7 linked regions of the Homo sapiens genome follow. The protein of the gene in region 3 purifies or fractionates together with the protein of the main gene of each other region. This does not show direct contact. Each region holds a gene or a part of one and is shown on either strand. Other genes may lie near its edges. The genes, in order: QKI, UBAP2L, CDV3, COBL, SUGP1, RRBP1 and TSFM.

What was found.
Region 1: the proteins of CDV3 (region 3) and QKI fractionate together in Homo sapiens (co-fractionation; one large-scale study listed by BioGRID). This does not show direct contact.
Region 2: the proteins of CDV3 (region 3) and UBAP2L fractionate together in Homo sapiens (co-fractionation; one large-scale study listed by BioGRID). This does not show direct contact.
Region 4: the proteins of CDV3 (region 3) and COBL fractionate together in Homo sapiens (co-fractionation; one large-scale study listed by BioGRID). This does not show direct contact.
Region 5: the proteins of CDV3 (region 3) and SUGP1 fractionate together in Homo sapiens (co-fractionation; one large-scale study listed by BioGRID). This does not show direct contact.
Region 6: the proteins of CDV3 (region 3) and RRBP1 fractionate together in Homo sapiens (co-fractionation; one large-scale study listed by BioGRID). This does not show direct contact.
Region 7: the proteins of CDV3 (region 3) and TSFM fractionate together in Homo sapiens (co-fractionation; one large-scale study listed by BioGRID). This does not show direct contact.

Annotation. Positions count from the first base shown.
Region 1 is NC_000006.12:163,421,218-163,424,717, reverse strand, and holds part of QKI (KH domain-containing RNA-binding protein QKI), read right to left. Parts: intron 1-3,500. UniProt on the Homo sapiens protein: RNA reader protein, which recognizes and binds specific RNAs, thereby regulating RNA metabolic processes, such as pre-mRNA splicing, circular RNA (circRNA) formation, mRNA export, mRNA stability and/or translation.
Region 2 is NC_000001.11:154,227,455-154,230,954, forward strand, and holds part of UBAP2L (ubiquitin-associated protein 2-like), read left to right. Parts: intron 1-1,160; coding exon 1,161-1,271; intron 1,272-3,500. UniProt on the Homo sapiens protein: Recruits the ubiquitination machinery to RNA polymerase II for polyubiquitination, removal and degradation, when the transcription-coupled nucleotide excision repair (TC-NER) machinery fails to resolve DNA damage.
Region 3 is NC_000003.12:133,576,686-133,580,185, reverse strand, and holds part of CDV3 (protein CDV3 homolog), read right to left. Parts: intron 1-3,500.
Region 4 is NC_000007.14:51,030,310-51,033,809, reverse strand, and holds part of COBL (protein cordon-bleu), read left to right. Parts: intron 1-2,900; coding exon 2,901-2,998; intron 2,999-3,500.
Region 5 is NC_000019.10:19,310,510-19,314,009, forward strand, and holds part of SUGP1 (SURP and G-patch domain-containing protein 1), read right to left. Parts: intron 1-3,500.
Region 6 is NC_000020.11:17,679,443-17,683,561, forward strand, and holds the start of RRBP1 (ribosome-binding protein 1), read right to left. Parts: upstream 2,801-4,119; 5' UTR 2,586-2,800; intron 634-2,585; 5' UTR 557-633; intron 1-556. UniProt on the Homo sapiens protein: Acts as a ribosome receptor and mediates interaction between the ribosome and the endoplasmic reticulum membrane.
Region 7 is NC_000012.12:57,789,287-57,792,786, reverse strand, and holds part of TSFM (elongation factor Ts, mitochondrial isoform 2 precursor), read right to left. Parts: intron 823-3,500; coding exon of another isoform or gene 760-822; intron 1-759. UniProt on the Homo sapiens protein: Associates with the EF-Tu.GDP complex and induces the exchange of GDP to GTP. It remains bound to the aminoacyl-tRNA.EF-Tu.GTP complex up to the GTP hydrolysis stage on the ribosome.

The sequences.
Region 1 (3,500 bases), on a different chromosome or scaffold from region 3:
AGAGGTTGCAGTGAGCCAAGATCCAGTGCTTTGGCAACAGAGAAAGACTCACACAAAATTAAAAAAAAAAAAAAAATTAAAAACCAAGCAGTGATGCTGCTACTTTATAGTATGAGAGGCTCTTCTGAATACCCATCAACTTCAGAGTATTTGGATTTGAGGTTGGCAGGGCAGTTGATAATTTCATTCACAGATGAAGAAGCTTGAGGTTCAGAGACATTAGTTATCTCACCCAAGATCACCAAACCAGTTAATTGCGGAGTCATGATTAGATCCCAGGTCTATAGTACAAGAATGCTTACCACTTCATCACAGGGTCTCATTAGCATATGCACAAAAACATAAATTCATTTCATCTTTATGCTGGCTCACGCATGTGCAGGCACACACATACAGAGTTAAAACTTGAATACTCTCATGATAATGGCATCACTGCAACCACGGTGGAATCAGCGACAATAGACAATTAGATGCGGTTTCAGGGTAATTTTTTTGATCCCAGTTTGAAATTTTTTTTTCTTAAAAAAATGTATTCACCTGCCATGTAACAACTGTATCAAAGGGATATAATTGCTGTAACATAGCAAAGAACTGTGGCTTACATTTAATTTGTTTGAATTATTTGAAATGAGCAATCATCCCCCAGATGCTGGCATCAGGAATACGATATAGTAGCTACCTGGTGGCTATCTGGTGCAGCACCGTTTCCATTCAATTCATAACCATCCACCTCCTGGGTGTCACTCTTCAGTTATCTACCTGATATATCATTGGGCTGTTTACCCCAGGCTGATCTAAAACTGATACAAGTATACATTCCTAACTTGAATCACTTAGCAATAGCATACTTCTCTATTAAATCACCCAGCCAAAAATGTTTCCTCTTGAGTAGTAAAAATAATAGCAGCAACAATTTTTACATTATTCAAAAAACTGAGGCTCTAGCCTTTGCTTACAAAGAAGTGAATGAGCTGAAATCCTCTAAAAATGGCTTTCTCACTTTTAGCCTCTTAATTAGAAAGTTATCGTTAAAAATAAATTCTAGTTCTAAGAATCTGACCATCATTTGTTCAAAACCAGCATATCACAGAATTAGCAAAAAATCATTTGGTTTGTCTTCTTTACCTTCACAACTTGAGGCAACAGCAGCAGATTTTTAGCATATGGAAATATTCCAGGTTTTTCCCTCCAGTTCCCCTTGTGGAGAGGCACGCCACAAAATGGAACAGAGGGCAGAAGTGAGTGTCTTGCTCTAGCTCTGCTGCCCACTTGTCTTTGCACCTATGAAATGAACATATACTCCCAACTCTCAGGTCCCCTGCAGCTCTAAAACACAATTCTCTGATATAATCTGCAAAGTAAGTTTGAGACCCTGTAAAACTATGACATTGAAGAGTTTACAAAAAAGGTTCCAAATTTTATTTGTTTTTGAGATGGAATCTCGCTCTGTCACCCAGGCTGGAGTGCAGTGGCGCAATCTCCTCTCCCTGCAACCGCCGCCTACCAGGTTCAAGCGATTCTTCTGCTTCAGCCTCCCAAGTAGCTGGCACTGTAGGCACACTCTACCATGCCCGGCTAATTTTTAGCAGAGACAGGGTTTCACCATATTGGCCAGGCTAGTCTCGAAATCTTGACCTCGTGATCCACCTGCCTCGGCCTCCCAAAGTGCTGGGATTACAGGCATGAGCCACCTCACCAGGCTCGGTTTCAAATTTTAAAATTGCATGTTTGTTTTCTTACTATGCATTTCCCTAATTCTACTCTTAAAATGTATTATTTTTTGTTTGTTTTTTCCTATATATTTCAAACTATAAAATCAGCTTAAAAACCAAGGGCTCCCCAATGATTTGCTACTGACCAGGAGATCAGGCCCAGTCTCTACAATGACCTCTCCTGCACTAAAGCAAAAGCGAGGTGCTTACTTAAGGCCAGCTACTTATTCAATCCCGGGGCCAACCTTTCTCAGCTGGAACTTAACCAGCCCCAGTACTCACAAAGCCCAGCTCACATTCACTGCATGTCTTCACTTACAGATATAAATGCCTGCACACACATGCCCTTTACTTACATTGTGACCATTATGTGGAGCCACTTTATGGATGTAACTGCATTTTGATGTTTTATTTTTTAAGACAGGGTCTCACTGTTGCCCAAGGTGGAGCGCAGTAGCATGATCATAACACTGCAGCCTTGACCTCCTGGGCTCAAGCAATCCTCGCTCCTTAGCGTCCCAAGTAGCTGGGACTACAGGCACACACCACCACATCCGACTAATTATGTTCTTTCCGATACTTCAATATCTGCTTATCTGCTAAGCAGAATATGACACATTCTGCTTATAATAAATAATGTGATATAAATCTTACAATCGATTCATTTCCCCAGCCTCAAAATTTAGTTCTACAAAAATATTAGACTAATACATGAAGCAACTTTATGAACATAATTTATTTTGTTAGACTTGATAGGATTGCCGGATTTTCAAACTAGAGTTTCCGCATCAAGAAACTGAAGACGAAAACATTAAGTGCAGTCCTTTTCTTGCTAATTGTAAGAATTCTAGATAAATCACTTCTGCAATATATTTTTTAAAAATTCATCACAGATTTTCAAACACTGTTACTGCTAAAGCACAGTAATAAACAGTTTAGAGCTTGGTGGCTCACGCCTGTAATCCCAGCACTTTGGGAGGCCGAGGCGGTCAGATCATGGGGTCAAGAGCCGAGGCGGTCAGATCATGGGGTCAAGAGTTCAAGATCAGCCTGGCCAACATGGTGAAACCCCGTCTCTACTAAAAATACAAAAATTAGCCGGGCGTGGTGGCGGGCGCCTGTAATCCCAGCTACTCGGGAGGCTGAGGGAGGAGAACTGTTTGAACCCAGGAGGCAGAGGTTGCAGTGAGCCGAGAGCACGCCACTGCATTCCAGCCTGGGTGACAGAGCGAGACTCCAACTGAAAAAAAAAAAAGAAAAAAGAAATAAAAGAGCTTAGTTTCAGCTAAGTGAAAACTTCAATTTATCAGTTTTCTAAGTAATGGCACTGTTTAAAATTAAAAGACACACCTGTGTTTAAAAACATAGCTATTTGTGTTAAATGACAATCAGCCACATATGATTATACTCAGCTTTCTTTTAAACTAAAATCACTCAATCAAATACAGTCGTTATCCTGAACACACCAAAGCAGCACTTAGGGACAAGAAATCATTCCTATCTATTGTGCCCTGCATGGAGTACAAGAACTATATATGTGGGGACTTTTAAAAGGGTAACTAACGGGGTGGGGAGTTTACCTATATAATTCCATAAATGCCAAAATTTTCCAAGAGCTGAGATGAGCACTGGTAGTTTTTCTCTGCTTATGAATTGATACCCTTTGGTATAAGGACTGACAAGAAACTATACTATTTAAGTAAAGCAATTTTATCTTCCTAAATCTCCTTCCCAACAATGACAGTAAAGTAAAATTAAGCACCTTGGCAGCAAGTACTACAAATAACA
Region 2 (3,500 bases), on a different chromosome or scaffold from region 3:
TATAGGTATTGAAAGAATTTTGACCTGAAATATAATAGGTCAGGCCAATAAATAAGTGCTTTCATTCTCTAATTTTTTGTAGCCCTTTGTTTTGTTTTTTGTTTTTTTTTCAGATGAAGTCTCACTCTGTCACCCAGGCTGGAGTGCAGTGGCATGATCTTGGCTCATTGCAGCTTCTGCCTCCCGAGTTCAAGCGATTCTCGTGCTTCAGCCTCCCGAGTAGTTGGGATTACAGGCGCTCACCACCATGCCTGGCTAATTTTTTGTATTTTTAGTAAAGATGGGGTTTCACCATGTTGGCCAGGCTGGTCTCGAACTCCTGACCTCAAGTGATCTGCCTGCCTCAGCCTCCCAAAGTGCTGGGATTACAGGTGTGAGCCACTGCACCCAGCCTATTGTAGCCCTTTGGATAGATACTTTGTTTGGAAATTTTATCTTAATTTTAACCTCTTGCCTGTTGCTGATGCCATTTTGTAGAAACTGAGCAGTTGTGGGTATAGGAAATGTGGAAATTCATGCTGAAGCCTGTGTGTTTCAGAGTTTGATTCTGTATTTGATGCTTAATTGCTTTGTAAATACTTTTGACCTCATCCCTGAACCACAGATGTTAATATTTGGCTTTTGGAAATAGAATACCAAAATTCTACATGTTTTCCTTTTTGGCGGGGGTTGGGGGGGTGGTTCTGGAAAACCTGCTAGGCAAATTCTACATCATTTTTCTTTCTTTCTTTTTTGTTTTTTTTTTTATTTTGAGACGGAGTCTTGCTCTGTGGTCCAGGCTAGAGTGCAGTGGCGCAATCTCAGCTCACTGCAACCTCCGCCTCCTGGGTTCAAGCAATTCTTCTGCCCCAGCCTCCCAAGTAGCTAGGATTACAGGCGCCCGCCACCACACCCAGCTAATTTTTGTATTTTTAGTAGAGACAGGTTTAATCATTTTGGTCAGGTTGGTCTCAAACTCCTGACCTCAGGTGATCCGCCCACCTCAGCCTTGCAAAGTGCTGGGATTATAGGCGTGAGCCACTGTGCCCAGCCCTCATCTTTTGCTTTTTAAACTTGTTTTTTTCAAACTCAACTGATAGCGTTTCCCTTCACCTAGTTTCCTTTCATTGGGAGTGTGAGCATAAGCCTGTTCATGATGGTTGCTGTTTTTTCTCTTTCAGTTGATTGATATTACAGGCAAGAACCAGGATGAATGTGTGATTGCTTTGCATGACTGCAATGGAGATGTCAACAGAGCTATCAATGTTCTTCTGGAAGGAAACCCAGACACGGTAGAGTGCTTATAGAGTGTTCTAGGACATGGGTCCTCAATTGGGAGGCTAGTAATGTTCTAAAAGTAGCAAATGGCAACATACCTTAAAGCAGAGCACCTTTTTCTTGAAGTAAAGTTGGGAACTTTCTTGGAGATTGTTCACCACAGGTTATAAATACTTAAAATTTATGTGTACTACATCCTTTTTATGAGGATAATGCTCATAGGAGAAAACAGTGAAATCAGTCTCTGCTAATTGGCCTGGAATAAATTATTTATTCCAGGCTAGTGACTGTTTTCAGGCTGTGGGGTTAGGCTGAATTAGAGGTGCGATTTGATAGCCTTGGATATTGCTGTTGAACAAAGTCACACACTATACTTGATTCTGTTTTTTTTTCTTTTTATTTTATTTTATTTTATTTATTTTACATATTTGATTCTGAATTCAGGACATTCCCCTCAATATCAGCTTCGCATTGCACACTACTGTTTCATTGCCTGAACTTCCTTCTGTTGAGGTAGCAGAGAAACAAGCTTTGTAGCCTGCTGACCATCCCTGGAGATGATAGGGGATATCTTGGAGGATCTCTTGCCCTGGAATTTAGACAAGTCGCTTTCACTTCTCCTTCCCACTTCATGAGAATTCTGTTTTTATGCTTGTCTTATGTTTGTACCAAATTGTAATCCTCTGACTGCCTTATTGATCTTCAGAATGTTCCTGCAGTGCTTACTAGAGAAATTTTGTTTTTTTAATGAGCAGTGTATTATTATTATTATTATTATTTTGAGCCAGGGTCTTACTCTGTGGCCCTGGCTGGAGTACACTGACATGCTGCAACCTCCTCGTCCTGGGCTTAGGTGATCCTCCTACTTCAGCCTCCTGAGTAGCTGGGACCACAGGCATGGGCCACCATGTCCAGCTGATTTTCCCATTTTTAGTAGAGCCAGGGTTTCTCCATGTTGCTCAGGCTGATTTCAAACTCCTGGACTCAAGCTAGCTGCCCGCCTCGTCCTCCCAAAGTGCTGGGATTATGGGCATGAGCCACCGCACCTGGCCCAGTGTATTATTTTGAAATCATTTTCATTTATTGGGTCTTATACTGGGGCTCTTTGGTTGGAATAGATATCAAAATTCATCCTTACAGATAACAACTTGTTTTTTTTCTTGAGTCAGAGTCTTGCTCTTGTTGCCCAGGCTGGAGTGCAGTGGCGTGAACCTGCTCTCTGCAGCCTCCACCTCCCAGGTTCAAGTGATCCTGTGCCTCAGCCTCCAGAGTAGCTGGGATTACAGGCATTCACCACCATACCCAGCTAATTTTTTTTTTTTGAGACGGTGTCTCTCTCTGTCTCCCAGGCCGGAGTACATCTCGGCTCACTGCAAACTCTGCCTCCTGGGTTCAAGCAATTCTCATGCCTCAGCTTCCCGAGTAGCTGGGACTACAGGCATGCACCACCATGCCTGGCTAATTTTTTGTATTTTAGTGGAGACAGTGTTTCACTATGTTGCCCAGGGTGGTCTTGAACTCCTGAGCTCAGGCAATCCTCCTGCCTCGGCCTTCCAAAATGTTAGGATTACAGGCGTGAGCCATGAAACCTGGCCTCAGATACAACAGCTTTCTGATACTACAGAGTCACTCCAGCTAAATGCAGGAGGTTTGTCAATTTCTTTGAGACAATGGGAAATAATAATGGAAAACTTTTAAAAACAATTGAATTTAAATTGGTGGGTTTTTTCTTCAAAAGTGTTATCCTGGATTAAATTTTACACTGTTGACCTTATTTGAATATTTACTATCTGGCCAATCAAGATATGCTTTTGATTTGTTTTGGGTTTACTCTAGAATAATTGTCTCCAGATTTTATGGGGGGAATCAGGTGGGGCTATTTATGTTTTTTTAAAAGTCTGAATGTTTTTTCGCAAATCACATTTTATCTTACCTTCCAGCATCTTCTGTCTAGTGCTATAAGGCTGATGTTATACAGTATCAAAAAGGAAAATAAGCTGGAGAATATAGGTTTATGTTACGAATAAACTAGCTACTAGTGAAACCAATGGGAAGCAAAGTCAGCTCCCAGGGATATTGGATGTATTTGGGTGGGTGAGATCATTTCAGAAAACTGAAGTCGCCTTTGGGAAGATAATAGTAATTCTTTCTCCTGACCCATCTTGTGCCAGCAACAGATGTGCATACAGAGGAGGGAGAAAGGTTACAGTTTCCTGAAACTTGCCAGGTTTTGAGATAGCAGC
Region 3 (3,500 bases):
AATGAGAACAAATGGACACAGGGAGGGGAACATCACACACCAGGGCCTGTTGGGGGGTGGGGGACTGGGGGAGGGATAGCGTTAGGAGAAATACCTAATGTAAATGACAAGTTGATGGGTGCAGCAAACCACCATGGCACATATATACCTATGTAACAAACCTGCACGTTGTGTACATGTACCCTAGAACTTAAAGTATAATAATAATAAAAATAAATAAGTATTTTGGGTTAAGATTCTGAAATACTAGCTAAACTAAACATGTGGAAATTGTCTAGTCAAGACTCTTTATCAGCCGGGCGCAGTGGCTCATGCCTGTAATCCCAGCATCTTGGGAGGCAGAGGCGGGCAGATCACTGGAGGTCAGGAGTTCGAGACCACCCTGACCAACATGGTCAAACACTGTCTCTACTAAAAATACAAAAATTAGCTAGGCGTGGTGGCACATGCCTCTAATCCCAGCTACTTGGGAGGCTGAGGCAGGAGAATCGCTTGAACTTGGGAGGTGGAGGTTGCAGTGAGCGGAGATTGCGCCATTGCACCCCAGCCTGGGTAACAAAAGCAAAAACTCTATCAAAAAAAAAAAAGAACGAACAAACCAAAAACACTCTTCATCCAACAATTGAAGGAATTGAAGCCCAGAGATGCTTAGAGGCTTGCCTAAATGCCAGTTAGCAGGGTAGAAATGATTTACATATTTTATTACTTTTTCATCTTTACATATTTCAGAAAGTATCAACTCTCCAAATGTCATAGCAGAACAAGAAACACGTTCCAAACGGTTATTTCCATGGGAGACAGGCTGAAATTCAGTGTTTGACCCAAATATAATATATAGCTTCCCATCAGCTAAATTTTATAAACAAACACTACAATACTGCTGTAAATTCATCACAATTCCACATATACGGTCTTAAATATGTGTAAGTCTGTAAGGCACTACTGGTAAGGTGAGGAGAATAATGATGCTACAAAAGGGAGACTTACTGAATATCTACTACAGCAGGCAGCATTCCACCCCACTGTACAAAGTTAAACCTCACAGTAACACTAAGGCAGCCAAGAGACCCACTGTATGTATGTATGAGGAAACATAAGTACCTTCCCCAGGGCTACAAAGTAGCAGAGCCAAAATAGTGTGGGATTCTAGAGGCTCTATTATTTCACATTACCTTTTAATTCATTTTATCCCCTTTATAGCTCTAAGGTATGATGCAAAAATATTCTCTAAGATTTGAGAAATGCATTTTCTTTAGTAAGGCTGATAGGATCACACATCCTGCAGCAGTATATTTATAAAGAATAGAACAGCCTTATCTCTTTACCTCAAGAGACATGAGAATTTATACATCCTAACTCCCCTTCCCCAACACTAGGGGGAAGCAGCTAAAACAAAAATCAGACTGGATTGAGCTGCTGGAATACCGGGCATCTCCACAGGTTTGTCCCTATTATACCTAGCATTGCTGCAACAGTAAAATGGGGAGATACACATGGCCTGATCAGCTATGCCTGGCCTGGAGGCTTAAAATGGCACTGCACCTCATCCAAAGAATCTTTCCTGACCCCTTCATGGATGATGAAATGTCTCTCCTCTGCCCCAGAGCACCATGCACATCTCTTTGAAATTATCTACTGTTGTCTATTACAGCATGACTTATTTCTACAACCAGAGAACCTCAGTGTCTAGCAGAGTAGTCACATAAGTATTTGCTAGAATAAATCCACCTTGGATAATGTAACCAGCTCTACCTAAAAGGTTTAAGTCTAGATTTCTCACCAAAGTTTCTAGAAAACCACTGGGCTCCAAGAACTCAATTATTTACTGAAACGTGACAAATGCTCAACAGTGTATACCTTCAAGAATTAAATCTTTCTAACATTCTCCCAAAAATCCACTTTAAAGATGGAAGTGGCTGGGCCTAGCAGCTCATGCGTGTGATTCCTTTGCTTTGAGATCACTTGCGGCCAGGAGTTTTGAGACCAGCCTAGGTAAAATAGACCTCATCTACAGAAAAAAAAAGTAAGATTAGTCAGGGGTGGCAACTCACACCTGTAGTCCCAGCTACTCGGGAGGCTGAGGTGGGAGGATCACTTGAGCCCAGGAGTTCAAGACTACAATGAGCTATGATCATGCCACTGCATTCCAACCTGGGTGACAAAGTGAGACTGTCTCAAAAAAATGAAAAAATAGAGATGAAAGAGGCCTACAGGGCCTACAAACAACCAAGGATCTAACTCAAATGACAGCCTCCTTTATAACCACCTCAATGGCTTCCCTCTCAAGAATCTGTCTATAACAGCATGACCTTGAATAAGATCTGTTAATTCAGACACAAAACTGGGCACATTAAGTACCTTGGTACTTAAATCTTGAGCTGGTTGGTAAATGTGAAATAGGATCTTAATATATAATACGTTTGCTGCTAATGAAAAATTTCCCCTTTCAAATGTACAGGTAAAGAACTAATATGCTAACTACTATAAGGACCAGGGTCAAGAACTTTAAGATTGTATGTGACATCTGGCTGGGCTCAGAGGCTCATGCCTGTGATCCCAGCACTTTGGAAGGCCGAGGTGGGTGGATCACCCGAGGTCGGGAGTTTGAGACCAGCCTGAACAACATGGAGAAACCCCGTCTCTACTAAAAACACAAAATTAGCCAGGCGTGGTGACACATGCCTGTAATCCCAGCTACTCGGAAGGCTGAGGCAGGAGAATCGCTTGAACCCGGGAGGCTGAGGTTGCGGTGAGCTGAGATCGCACCATTGCACTCCAGCCTGTGCAACAAGAGCGAAACTCTGTCTCAAAAAAAAAAAAAGAAAAAAAGACTGAATGTGACATCTGCAGCTCTCAGTATACCGAGAAATAGAAAAAGATAAAGCACATGTAGCAGAGACTGGTGGATCTGAGTGAAGAACATATGGGAAGGAGTGTTTCTCAGTGTTGCAGGTTAGTGGAATACCTCTACTAGGATGGCCACTTAGGGCCAATGACTAGATGCTAAGAAAACAAAAAAAACAATATAAAAGCTAGTCTAGGCCGGGTGCTGTGGCTCACACCTGTAATCCCAGCACTTTGGGAGGCTGAGGCGGGCGGATCACGAGGTCAGGAGTTCAAAACCAGCCTGACCAACATGATGAAACTCCGTCTCTACTAAAAATACAAGAATTAGCCAGGTGTGGTGGCGGGCGCCTGTAATCCCAGCTACTCGGGAGGCTGAGGCAGAAGAATCGCTTGAAACCAGAAGGCGGAGGTTGCAGTGAGCCGAGATTTTGCCACTGCACTCCAGCCTGGGCAACAAGAGGGAAACTTCGTCTCAAAAAAAAAAAAAAAAAAAAAAAGCTAGTCTACCTTCAGGTTGAACAGAACTTAAATGCTTGTACTAGCTGATACTTACTTATATCCCTGGCAAGGGTGAAGTATGTAAGTTATTTAAGACACTTTTCACTATCTCAAAAGTAACCAAAATAGATCAAGATCAAAATAACCCTGAAGAT
Region 4 (3,500 bases), on a different chromosome or scaffold from region 3:
AAAGTGCTTACTGTGTGCAGTGTAAGAAGAATGCAGACTCCTTTGCAGGAAAGAATTCTTGTTCACTAAAGGACAAAATTATCCTTTTAAATTTTGCTGGCTAAAAATTTGCTCTGTCACTCAAGCTGCTTTGAACTCAACCAAGCACAGTTCTAAAGAAAAAGGGTAAAATATTCATCCTAATTCATCCTTTTCCTTAAGTCATGCTGGTTGGTTTCTTGTTAGATTTCTGTCTCCGCCTTGTCCAAAGGTATTTGCTATTTTTAAATCATCACAGTGTTTCTATATATGTGTGTGCTGATTTCTTCACATAACATGCTAACATAAGCATGGATGTGTGTTTCTACATAGACTTAATGATCATCATATTTACTGATTTTAATGCCCTTTGAAATATATATGTAATAATTTAGGTAACTGCCTAGTGCTGGACATTTCTAGAATTCTTACATGAACTTTGTTGTATTTATATTTTTCCTTCTATAGGGTTTCCTTAAAGCAGATTATTAAAAAAGAGATTAATGGGCCAAAGTTCTTACAAAGATAACGTGATTTTTGTTTGTGTGTTTTTTGATATGTATTTCCACATTGCTTTCCAATTAAAACCTGTAGCAACAAGTGTGGGTCTGTCAGATTCATCACATCTTCATCAGCTTGGGGTGGGTTTTTGTTTTGTTTTGTTTTGTTTTGCTATTTTGCAAAATGGTAGAATCAGTGGAGTTTTTATCTTATTATTTTTTTTAATTCTTATTGATATCATTATGTTCCATGTCTCATAGTGACGTGATCAAGCATACTTTAAAATAAAGGCAAATACTTTGAAGTAAAAGTATGTCTGTAATTTTGTTTGGCTGGGCTTTAAGCATCCTAAACTAAGAGCAAGCATTTAAAAAGTTTTCCATCTTTCCAAGTATTTAAATCTCTTTTCCATTTCAGATTGCTCTTTTATATGGCAATTTCCATTTTTCTCTGCCATATATTTTATTAAAAATTTAAATGTATTTAAACCATCTCATTCCATGAAAGAGAAAAGCAGAACTTTAGTAAAGTGCATTCAAATAATTAAAGTCCATGGCAAAAGCAATAGGGAAGACAGTCATGCACCTCTTGTGGTCCTTATTAATGGGTCCACATGCACACACATCTCCAACCAGCCCCCTTTGTGTAGCTTGTCAGAGGACATTAGCTGAGACTAATCTGGAAGCCACTTCCTGGCTCCCAAATGGACATAGTCACCAAATCAGAAAGACTCATTTATCAGAATAAAAACTTTGCTACGTGAGGATTGTGCAAAGCTTATTTCATGCATCATTATCTGGGCCTGATTAGCAGTGATGGAAATTGGTCCTCAATTTTTAACAATCAGCGGAAAACAAACCTTCAGCTTTCACTGAAGATAGACAATTGCCATAGACATGTCTCTGTGTTTTCTGCACAATAGGAAAATAGAGGCAAGAGCCCTTGCAAAGACAGTTTTTAAATTGTTTTGGCAGCAGTTGTCTCACAGATGCCATTGTCCCTGTGACGCAAATGAAGCCAGATCCCGCTCTCTGAGCAGACGGGTTGACATCTTCCTGGATGCCCCGTGCCACAGGGGCCACATTATTATGTGTTGTGGCCCCAGATGCAGCTGGTCCTTCTTGGGCTTTGGGGGCAGGCAGGCCTGGTTCCAGATGCCAGTGTGACCTGGGCAGCTCTGTAGTCTCTCCGTACATAGTTTCATCACTGTACAACAGTGACAACAACACTACCTGCCTGAAAAACTGTGAGGGTTATAATAAGATAATTTATGCAAAAGAGCTCTGTGCGGGGGCTGGCACAAAGGCATGCAGACAGGCCTCACACTGCTAGGAGCTTCCTCCTGTTAAGTCTGAGAGGAGGCCCTTGGGAAGGGTCTTGCGGAGTCAAGGGTGGAGCAGTTACTCCTGCTACTGTTGCTGTGAGGTTTTTTGGCCATCCTTATTGTCCTTATGTCCCAGTTCAAGATTCTAGGGAGTACAGCTCTTCAAGTGGCATTATCAGGCCCCCAAGCCCTGCCCCTGCAAGTGGCATTATCAGGCTCCCTGTCACCCACCAAGGGTAGGAATTAAGCCAAAGTAAACATAGAGTCTGTAAAAGTCATTTATAGTAGAGGAGTGAAATTTCTCGTTTTCTGAGTCTGGCAGGGTGGGCTACTGCTAGGGTGGACACAGATGGAGGCTGAGCTTATGAAGTTGGTGGGACTTCTGGGAACACTCCCCCATGCAGCCCTGCACAACCCTCCCCACGGACCTCCTAACAGCAGGCAGATCCTGCACCAGAGGTATGTAGCCTTTATCACTGGGACCTTGAACGACGCTGCACTCAAATCCGCAAGTGCCAAGGAACAGCCGGGCTGTGCAGTGTTGAGGTGAGGTGGACCAGCCTCCAGCCACGTGCACATGCTTGGCCTCCAGATGGCTTCACTCCTTCTTGCCAGGTGCCAGGTGCAGGGGACTGCTGTAGCGCAAGGCACAGATGCAAGCAAATCCTGGATCACGTGAACCGTCTTTTGTGCGGTGGAATTAAAACTTTGACTTCAGTCTGCAGAGTGAATGAAAGCTGTGTGTGGTTTGGTTACTGTAACACTTTGGGGCCCCACACACACACCATATATCACATGTCCACCACATACAAGACATATACTCCACACATGCACACACGCTACACGCATCCCACACATACCTGTGCACACACATGGGGGACACACACACCCATGAACAATCTGCGTCTCCGTAGTTCTGAGGACAACAGCAGTACAGTGAGTATGTGACTGCTTGAATTTGAGTATGAGCTGTTCTATCCTCAGATATTCCTGGAAAGGAGTACATTAAATCAATAGTAAGAGAAATGAGTGCTCCTTTCTCTTTGGTCTTCCCTAGAACTGAAAAAGCTGTCACAGCCTCAAATGATGAAGAAGACCTATTAATTGCTGGAGAGTTCCGTAAAACCCTTGCAGAACTTGATGAAGACCTGGAAGGTAAGAACCACCTGATCCGCTACTCTGATATTATGCTGCATGAAAGTAGGTGCCAACAGTAACTTCCTCTGAGCATACTTTGATGTATCTATGTGAGGAAACAGCCTTCAGAAGGAATTCCAGGTCAGTTTGGTGAAAGTCTGGATGTGAGGCGCACACAGGTTTCCGGTAGACTGCTTTTTATCTGGGCTGCCAAGCAGTACCTGGAAACATCCAGACAACTGCTTACAGTGTGCTCTGAATAATACTAATTCAGTGCATTAAAAAAGTATGCCACACATGTTAAAGAATAAAAAGGGTGGCGCAAAAAATAAACAGATTTCCTCATTAAGACTTCTCTTAATTTGTTGATATATGGCATATCTGTCAATGAGAAATACTCAGCCTTTTGACCACAATGAAGCCATTTATAATGGAGCATCTCATGGCACTGCTATTATATTGATATATTTTGGGGAAATAATACTGGAAGGCCAAAGCAGATGGCAAATAGTTGCAGTAA
Region 5 (3,500 bases), on a different chromosome or scaffold from region 3:
CTCTCTCTGCACAGCACCTGTCCTCCCTTGCTAGTTGATTATCTGGGTTGTTACTGACTCATGTCTGTCCTCCTGCTAGACCTTAGAGTTTTCCAAGGCAGGGCCTACATGTCTCTCTCTCTCTGTCTCTCTCCCTCTCTATCTATCTATCCGAAACAGAGTTTTACTCTGTCGCCCAGGCTGGAGTGCAGTGGGGCAATCTTGGCTCACTGCAACCTCCTCCACCCAGGCTCAAGAGATTGTCATGTCTCAGCCTCCTGAGCAGCTGGGATTACAAGCATGTGCCACCACACCTGGCTAATTTTTGTATTTTTGTAGAGATGGGGTTTCGCTATGTTGGCTGGGCTGTTCTCGAACTTCTAACCTCAAGCCATCCTCCCACCTCATCCTCCCAAGGTGTTGGGATTACAGGTGTGAGCCACCACACCTGACCTATTTATTTAAGAGACAGGGTCTTGCTCTGCTGCCCTGGCTAAAGTGCAGAGTGCAATGGTGCGATAACAGGGACTGCAGGCATGTGCCACTCTGCCTGGCTAATTTTTTAATTTTTTTTTTTTTTTTTGGTAGAGGTAACATCTCACTATGTTGCCTAGGCTGGTCTTGAACTCCTGGCCTCAAGCAATGGTCCCACCTCAGCCTCCCAAGTCACTAGGACTAAAGGCATGTGACACTGTTCCTGGCCAATGCCATTTTTTTGACAGGCATGAAGGGCAGCTCTGACAACAGTATATCAGCTGTGCTCAACTTTGATTTAAATATATTTAGGCCCCTGGGTTTGCCTTTGTGCTAACTTGTTAAAAACATATTTTTTAAAAAGTAAAACATATACTTTGCAAAAAAAAAAAAGAGGGAGAGAGTGAAGATAAAATATAAAATGCCCTGTGATTCTTCCAGCAAGATTGCTTTGGCTGTTTTCTTAGAAATGTTTGATGCCCAGGCTGGGCGCGGTGGCTCACGCCTGTAATCCCAGCACTTTGGGAGGCCGAGGTGGGCGGATCACGAGGTCAGGAGATAGAGACCATCCTGGCTAACACAGTGAAACCCCATCTCTACTAAAAATACAAAGAATTAGCCAGATGTGGTAGCAGGCGCCTGTAGTCCCAGCTACCCGGGAGGCTGAGGCAGAAGAATGGCGTGAACCAAGGAGGCAGAGCTTGCAGTGAGCCAAGATTGCGCCACTGCACTCCAGCCTGGGCGACAGAGCGAGACTCTGTCTCAAAAAAAAAAAAAAAAAAAAAAAGAAATGTATGATGCCCAAAGAAATGCTTGCAGATCCCAGCTCTGAGCTGCAGGCCCACATGGGTAAAGAAACACAGGCTTTGGCTAAGCATGGTGGCTCATCCCTGTAATCCCAGCTACTTGGGAGACTGAGGTAGGAGAATCACTTGAGCCCAGGAGTTTGAGGCTGCAGTGACATATGATCATGCCACTGCACGTCTGCCTGGGCAACAGAGTGAGATCATGTTTCTTAAAACAAAAAAAAGTAACAGAGGCTCATTATGGAACAAATGGAAATGTAGAAAAACTGAAATAAGCCTAGGCAATATGGAGAAAACCCCATCTCTACGAACAAAACAAAAAATTAGCTGGGTGTGGTGGCGTGTGCCTATAATTCCAGCATTCCAGAGGATCACCGGAGCCCAGGAGGTCAAGGCGGAAGTGGGCCGCAATCATGCCACTGCACTCTAGCCTGGGTGACAGAGTAAGATCATTTAAAAAAAAATAAAAAGAAAAACTGAAACAGAAAGGAATGGAAAAACCCAACAATGTCTCCCTACTTTGCAACAGCCACTATTAACACTGGTATATATCTTTATTTTGCTCTCTAAATTAGAAGTCAGAGGAAATAAGGCTGTGATCACAGCACACACTCTACTTCTTCCATTTCCTACTGTAGCACACCATCCTGCTCCAATCTCAAATTCCTCACATACGCTGCTTTTTAAACCCGCATGACGTTCCACCATATGGATGTACCCAATGGTGCAAAAAGCTCATGGAGTCCACAGGGCTAGCCTTTTTCCTTTAAATAGGAGAAAGGAATAATTTTTAGTTCATCAGAACTAAAATAACCTAAATACATCAACAAGGGGCACTGGTTAAATAAATTACGGGCCATCCACAGGGAAGATGGGGCAGCCCTGAAAAGTTGAAATTTTAGACAAGCAATCAAATACAATGTTAAAGGAAAAACAAGGCCAGGCGCGGTGGCTCACGCCTGTAATCCCAGCACTTTGGGAGGCCAAGGCGGGTGGATCACGTGGTCAGGAGATCGAGACCATCCTGGCTAAAACAGTGAAACCCCGTCTCTACTAAAAATTAAAAAAAAAATTAGCCGGGCATGGTGGGGGGCACCTGCAGTCCCAGCTACTCAGGAGGCTGAGGCAGGAGAATGGTGTGAACCCAGGAGGCAGAGCCTGCAGTGAGCCGAGATCGTGCCACTGCACTCCAGCCTGGGCAACAGCGCAAGACTCCATCTCAAAAAAAAAATAAATAAATAAAATAAATAAATAAAAAAAAACAAAAGGACAGGCTATAAAACAGTATCTACAGTGTGGTTCTACTTACATCAAAATACATTTGAATTAAAAATTGTTACAAAGGCCGGGTGCGGGACCTCACACCTGTAATCCCAGCACTTCGGTAGGCCAAAGCAGGCGGATCACCTGAGGTCAGGAGTTCAAGACCAGCCTGGCCAACATGATGAAACCCCGTCTCTACTAAAAATACAAAAAATTAGCCGGGCGTGGTAGCGGGCACCTGTAATCCCAGTCACTGGGGAGGCTGAGACAGAAGAATCACTTGAACCCAGGAAGCGAATGTTGCAGTGGGCCAAGATCGCGCCATTGCACTCCAGCCTGGACAACAGAGTTAGACTTCATCTCAAATATAAAAAAAAATTGTTAGACAAACACATCGGGCCAGGAGCAGTGGCTCACACCTGTAAACCTAATGCTTTGGGAGGCCAAGGTAGGAGGATCACTTGAACCCAGAAGTTCAAAACCAACCTGGGCAACATAGTGAGACCCCATCTACACAAAATTTAAAAATTAGCTAGGCATGGCAGTGGACATCTGTAGTCCCAGCTACTCAAGAGGCTGAGGTGGGAAGATAGCTTGAGTCCAGGAATTCCAGACTGCAGTGAGCTATGATAGTGCCACTGTACTGCAGCCTGGGTGACAGAGTGAGATCCTGCCTCTGAAATAAAACAGGCCCGGCACGGTGGCTCAAGGCTGTAATCCCAGCACTTTGGGAGGCAGAGGCGGGTAGGTCACCTGTGGCCAGGAGTTCAAGACTAGCCTGGTCAACATAGTGAAACCCTGTCTCAACTAAAATACAAAAAAATGGCCGGGCTCAGAGACTTATGCCTGTAATCCTAGCACTTAGGGAGGCCGAGGTGGGAGGAACAACCTGAGGCCAGGAGTTAAAGACCAGCCTGGCCAACATGATGAAACCCCATCTCTACTAAAATACAAAAATTAGCCGGGCACGATGGTGGG
Region 6 (4,119 bases), on a different chromosome or scaffold from region 3:
AAACAAGATTTTAGCAAAGAAAAACTTGCTGTCTCAACAGAACTGTTGATCCTCTATGTGTCATTCATCTATTAGTTAAAATTCCCAGGGCTAAAAAGACAAGAAGAGTCTGGGGTCCCGACACTTTTAAAAGGTGTCCCTGCTACATAATAAATCAATACTCCAATTCAATCACTGGCATTCAACCATTTAAACTGAGTTTGCTGCTATGTAATTATTGCAGCCTGTTGAGTTAGGGCTCATTTCATTAAAGAGCATAATTGCTCAAATGTGACTTGATTTAAGATTTATTTAAAACTCTTCCATCACCAAAAAATACTCATATACCATGAACCACTGTAACTTCTTAATCTCTCTGTAAATGTTCAGAGGCAGATTCCTAAGTATGAAAGGTGAGAGTTGTTATAGTGCCTAGAGCTCTAAACCCTCTCCTAAACCCCAAGATCCCTTTCTGGTTTCCCCTCCCCCAACCTTAGCCTCCTCCAGGCCTCCACTGGCCCAAGATCCCTGCAAGCCGGCTTTGCGGTGCTCCATGTAAAAGGAAAACTTCACCTACTAGGAGGTCTGCCCCGGCCTTTGCTTCAACAGAGAGGGAAATGGCACCTCCAGGACCTCAGAACCGGAAGCTTCTTTCTGGAAGGGAAAGAGGTTGGCATATGATAGTGGGAGTGACCTTTGGCAAGTTCGTAAACGAGTCAAGACATCACACAGTAAGTGACATGCTGCAGGGTCACAGATTTCTCTAGGTGTCGGATTAACAGGAAGTTAAATCAAACAAGGAGTGTGAGGAGGGAGGCGGGGCAGTGGGAGAATGCCCCCCAGCTGCACAGGGCGGGGTAACATTCGCAGTTGTTCTTCCTGGGAGTGCCAGACAGACGTCCTGGGTCTCTGGGGACACCCAGTTCTGAAGAGGTATCTAATGTGAGATATGAGGCCCTACCAGGCCCATTTCTCCAAATTCCTGAAAATGCCATCCAGATGGCCCCTACCCTGAAGGTTCCAGCACGCAGAGTGAATAGCTGAGCAGTGACGTGGGAGGCTCCTCAGGTCCCTCAGAGTTTCATTTCCTTGGTGCTTCCCAGTCTCTCCTAACCTCTGACCTCTCAGAGTAATTGCCAAATTGCCTTCTGTTTGTACAAGGTCCCAGCACTTCCCGGCGTGGTTCCCGACCCTGTGAGTGGGTGGTGCTGTCTTCAGGCCACAGATAAGAAACTAGGATTCAGAGGGGCTATGGGACCTGCGAGTAGGCGGCCAGTACGTGGTCCGGGGTGTAGAACCCCGGCTGTGCAACTTCTGCAGCCCCGCGCCCGCCGCAGTGCCGGAGCCAGGCCCCACCTTCCTCCCGTGTCCAGCACCCCCCAACAAAAGCATCCCAACTGAACAGCCAACACTTGTGGCTCCTTCCTACAAGTGCTGGGTCTCCACAGCTTTCCTCGCAAATCGAAGCTAACAGGAGCCCCGATTTGCAGACCAGGAAATGGAGACCCCGAACGAAACAACTTGGTCGGGGTCACCCTCGCCAGCCGGGGCACTCTAGAGCTAAAACTCGCGACTTATCATTCGGAGAGGGGTCCCTGAAGCACTGCGGGCGCCCCACTGGAAGCGCAGACCCCGGCCTGCCTCCCCTAATCAGGGCGCAGCGGGAGAGCCGGCCGGGCCGGGGCGGGCACCAGGCCGGGTGCCAGCGCGCTTGGCCGGCCCGGAGGTGTCCGCTTCCGCCCGGGGCTGGCACCGCCGGCCCATTCATCGTGGCCGCGGGCGGGGCGGGCCGGGCCCCGGGCGCCCTCGTCCCCCCGCCGGGAGCCCTCGAGCCAGGCTCCGCGCAGCCCAGCCGGGGAAACGGTGGCCCCGGCCCCGCCGCCAGGGGGAGCAGGGAGCCGCCTCCCGCACTCCGGGAAGTTGCCACCGCGGCCGCCCGGCGTCCGTGCCATGGACAGACCCGGTCCCTGCGCCGCGAGCCCTGCGGCCCCGGCCCGCCCCGTCGGGGGCCGTCCCAGCCCCGCGAAGCGCCAGCGGGCCGCGGCCCGGGACCGGCGCGCTCGGCCCGTGGGCCCCCATTCAATCCCGCCCTCCTCCCCTCGGCCGGCCTCCGCCGCCTTCCGCCCGCACCCCACCCCTCCGGCCCGGACTCCAGCCCGGCAACGTCATCCGGCGGCTTCCCGAAACTTAACCCCTTCCTCCGCCAGCTGTGCGCCGCCCCGCCCCGCCCCGCCGCCAACTTTCTTCGCCCAACTTCGGAGCGCGCTGGCCGGCCCGACGGCCCTGCCGGGAGGGAGGGAGGCAGGGAGCGGTCGCCACGTCGCGCCCGTCTGCCGCCGCAGCTCCCCGGACGGCGAGGGCCGCGGGGTCCACACCACGGGGCGCGCCCTGCCTACGCCCCGGTACGGCGCTTGCCCGGCACCCCCGCCCCGAGTCCGACCCCGACCCCGATGGTGCACGGCCGCGGCGGCAGGCGGCGGGCGGCGGGCGGGCCGGGGGAGGGGCCGCCGAGGAGACGTGTCACTCGCGGCGCAGCGCGGCCGGCCCCGGCCCCCCGACGGCCCGGCCCGCGCGCGGCCGCTGCAGGGCCCGGCCAAGTTTCTTACCTGCAGCCAGAGACGCGAGAGGGAAAGCGAGAGGGCAGGAGCCGCCGCCTTCGCAGCCGCCGCGGAGCCGGGAGAGAGGAGCCGGCCAAGCCTCCGCCAAGAAACCGCCCCCGAGCAGCTGTAGACGCTGCGACCCTGACGCCGCCCGCCCCGTCTGCCGTCCGCTCCGGCCGCTCGCTGGCTGCGTGCGCGCGTGTGGAGTCGTGGCACTTTCTGCCTCAGAGCTGGCGAACGGCCCCCTCCGCCGGGATCGCCGCCTCCTGCCTTCCCCACCCGGGCCAGCCATTCATCGAGCCGCCTCTTCCCATTGGTCCGCACCCCGCCACTCTGCCGGTCGCTGGCCAGTCAGGACGCGGGTGGCCGAGCCGCGGCGGCGGCCATTGGGCAGAGAGGAGGGTCTCCACCTCGGCCAATGGGAGAGGGGAGGAGCTGCGGGGAGGTGAAGGGGGCAGGGCTGGGGAGAGGCGGGGCCGAGCGGCGCGGCGCTCGGCCGTGCGCGGGGCGGGGCGGAGCAGGAACGCCCCGCCCACCGAGGGGGGGGTCTCCGGCCAGCTCCGCCCACTCTGGGCCCGCGGCGCTCCCAGCAGTCTCTGACTAGGATCCGGCTCTGCCTAGGCGGGAAGCAGAAGGTTCGGGTCCCGGCGACCCCGGGCCTGCGCCTCTGGATACCGCTGGGCTGACATGGCGGTGGCTGAACAGGGTTGCGCAACCGCGAACAGCCAAGGAAGCTGCTTTATTTAAACCCAACTAACTTCCCCCGAAGCAGCGCCCCCTCGGGCCGCCGGGTATGAGGACAAGCTCTGCTGGGGGTCAGCCCAGGGAGAGCAAGTTCTTATCATCAAAGAGATTGCAATCAGCACCAGAAGGAATTTCCTTCAGTAAATGGAGGAATTGGGGTGGAAGAGCCAGAAGGTGCACGAGGAATTGAAGCGGATGTCATCGCCCTCGTTGTTAGGGAGGGTACAACTGAGGCACGGTCTATTTAAGATACTCAACCAAATCACAGCCGGCAGAGCAATAATTACAATCCACTCTGTGGCGTTTTATTCCATGCGTTGGGGAAGGTGAGAGGTTCTAACCTAAGAAAACTCATCCGTGTCCCACAAAACGGAGCAACTGGTACTTCCTCATTCCCTGACTTTCTCCCCAATATCAGCCAACACTCAGTCTTCATAATTAGTCAAGTCTTTAAATTAAAATAATTTTAGGCTTGATTTTTAACCATTATGTCAGCGTCTCTTAAAGCCAACCCTTTGAACTTGAGCCAAAGCCAGCTTCTTTGGAATTTTGGATTCTGAGCGACCAAAGGCTGCCTAGACTGCCCCCCATCACTTCCCTAGCTCCTGTTGCTGCAGAATCCCGTGCCTAACATCTATTTCTTGGACAATTTTCAATCTTCCCTGTCCCCATTTGTCACTAGTACTGTACTAGCTGTTGTTAGAAAGATGTGAAAAATACAAGCCTTCATGGGGAATAAAGAGCGATTGGGTTGAAATTAAACTGTTCATTCCTATTTTTAATCTTGGCGGTTCCT
Region 7 (3,500 bases), on a different chromosome or scaffold from region 3:
AACCCCGTCTCCAACGAAATACAAAAATTAGTTGGGCATGGTGGCACACGCCTGTAATCCCAGCTACTGGGGAGCCTGAGACGTGAGAATCGCTTAAACCTGGGAGGCGGAGGTTGCACTGAGCTCAGATTATGCCAATGCACTCCAGCCGGGGAAACAGAATTGAGACTCCATCTCAAAAAAAAAAAAGAAAGAAAGAAAACATTCTTTAAGACAACTAAGTGTAGACAATATTTTCATAAAGGCAAGAATGTTAAAAATTGGTAACAGTTCCATCTTTATAAACATTTTATTCTATCACTGCACCACCCCCAATTACATTCCACTCTCATCCTCCAGCCTAACTTCCTAGAATGTAATTTCCTAGAAATCAAGAACAATTATTTTCTTTTTCTTTTAAATATAGAGATGGGGTTTCCCTATGTTGCTCAGGCTGGTCTTGAACTCTTAGCTTAAGAGATCCTCCTGCTTCAGTCTCCCAAAGTGTTGGGATTACAGGCGTAAGCCACTGCACCTGGCCAAGAACAGTTTTTTCTTTTTTTTGAGATGGAGTCTCGCTCTGCCGCCCAGGCTGGAGTGCGGTGGCATGATTTCAGCTTACTGCAACCTCCACCTCCCGGGTTCAAGCGATCCTCCTGCCTCAGCCTCCCGAGTAGATGGGACTACAGGCATGCGCCACCATGCCTGGCAAATTTTTATATCTTTTTTAGTGGAGACAGGGTTTCACCATGTTGGCCACGCTGGTCTTGAACTCCTGACCTCAAGTGATCCACCTGCTTCAGCCTCCCAAAGTGCTAGGTTTACAGGCGTGAGCCACTGCACCTGGCCAAGAACAATATTTTCATAAAATCATAAAATGTTAGAGCTAGATTTGCACATTTTTGATGGGAATGCAAAATGGTACAAATCCAATGGTGTGAAGTTGTAGTATCTAATAAAACTACATATGCATTTATCCTTTGACCCTGAAATCCTATTTCTATGAATTCACCTTGATGATATACTTCCAATAATACTGCACAAGATTATTCATTGAACAATTATTTCTAATCAGAAAATTTTAAAAACAGCCTAAATGCCCAAACATAGCAGGAGATTAAACTATAGCACATCCACACAACAGAATACTATGTAGTTGGAAAAAATAAAAAGGATGACCTTCATGAATTGCTATGGAGTATTTCCAGGACATATTATTAAGTGAAAAAAGCAGATTATAAGTGTATATGCATATTATACTACTATCTGTGCAACAAAGAACTATTTGTATAAATATGCTTATTTTTGCAAAAAGAAATACTGAAAGGATAACCACAATCCAATGACACTGGTTATCTAAATAAAGGGATGGATAGGAACGGGGTAGAAGGGAGAGAAGCAGTAAGACTCCTCTGAGCATACTTTTTTTTTGACAGTTTTAACTTTGAGGACTTTCTTAATGTATCTTATGTATTCAAAAATAAAATTGAACCTGGCCGGCCGGGCGCGGTGGCCCACGCCTGTAATCTCAGCACTTTGGGAGGCTGAGGCGGGTGGATCACCTAAGGTCAGGAGTTCGAGACCAGCCTGGCCAACATGGTGAAACCCCATTTCTACTAAAAATACAAAAATTAGCCAGGTGTGGTGGCGGGCACCTATAATCTCAGCTACTCAGGAGGCTGAGGCAGGAGAATCACTTGAACCCAGGAGGCGGTGGCTGTAGTGAGCTGAGATCATGCCATTGCACTCCAGCCTGGCTAATGAGAGTGAAACTCCATCTTAAAAAAAAAAAAAAAAAATCTGGCCCAGTGCCGTGGCTCATGCCCATAATCCAGCACTTTGAGGAGGCCAAGTCAGGCAGATCACTTGAAGCCAGGAGTTTGAGACCAGCCTGGCCAATATGGTGAAACCTCATCTCTATTAATATAAAAAAGATTTAAAAAACAAACAAAAAACCCCGAAGTGCTGGAATTACAGGCATGAGCCACTGTGCCCAGCCAAAAAAAAAAACACACATTTAAAAAATAAAATTAAAATAAAATTAAATCAACACATACTTGGGGTGAAAATAAATACTGACTACAAAGAAATATAAAACTATATTTCAAATGAGTAACATAAGCTCACAGAAGGAAAAAAAAAATCCAAATAACTAAACGGAGTCATTTGACCACCTAACTTCAATGTAAAGACAAAAAGAACTACAAATAAATCTTGAACTCCTTAGTAGTTTTGTTATTTGCAGTGGTCAGGGGTAGCAATTCTGAAACAATTTTGTATATATATTGTAACACTTAGTACATATGAGTACATAACTAAAAACAGTAAACATATTGAAGTTGCTATGAAAAAGGAAGGATTGAACCACACGCACACAGCACATACACCTGCACTGTCTGCTCGAAGAACAAATGACATCTCAGTAGAAATCAGCACACCTGGCCAGGCGCAGTGGTTCACGCCTGTAATCCCAGCACTTTGGGAGGCCAAGATGGGTGGATCACGAGGTCAGGAGTTCAAGACCAGCCTGCCCAACATGGTGAAACCCTGTCTCTACTGAAAATACAAAAATTAGCTGGGTATGGTGGCACGTGCCTGTAATCCCAGCTACTCGGGAGGCTGAGGCAGGAGAACTGCTTGAACCGGGACCCAGGAGGCAGAGGTAGCAGCGAGCCAAGATCGCGCCACTGCACTCCAGCCTGGGCTACACAGCAACACTCTGTCTCAAAAAAAAAAAAAAAAAAAAAGAAAGAAAGAAATCAGCACACCTAACATTCAAATCTTGATTTCTAAAAACCATTCCCCAACTAAAAAGGACCAGGACTCCTTGAAGAAGTGGCCCATTCCACAGTTGGGGAAAGGAAAGTATGACATAAACCCAAAAGATAAGAATAAACAAAAAAGCCAAAAAGTAAGAAAATACTCAGAAAATAATAAGGGCATATCAAAGGACATTACAGTCAGCTTGCATTGATCAAATCCGCAGATAATTTGAGCATCAAAACGAATAATGAGTTATAACTTATTGTATAAAATAAGAACCCACGAGTCAATGTTAGTGCTGAATAAATCACTAAATAAAAATGAGAAGGGAAATTTATTTCTAACAGTAGAATGACAACTACTAAAACTAACACATTTTGGCTGGGTGCGGTGGCTCACGCCTGTAATCCCAGCACTCTGGGAGGCCAAGGCGGGCAGATCACCTGAGGTCAGGAGTGCGAGACCAGCCTGACCAACATGGCAAAACCCCATTTCTACTAAAAACACAAAAAAATTAGCTGGAAGTAGTAATGCATGCCTATAATCCTAGCTACTCAGGAGGCTGAAGCATAAGAATTGCTCGAACCCAGGAGGTGAAGGTTGCAGTGAGCTGAGATCACAACACTGCACTCCGTCTCAAAGAAAAAAAAATCCTAAATGTGATCACTGTCCTGTGGTTATATAACAATGTCCTTGTTTTTACGAGATACATGCTGAAGGAATAAAGGATCCTGATGTCTGCAACATACTTACAAAAA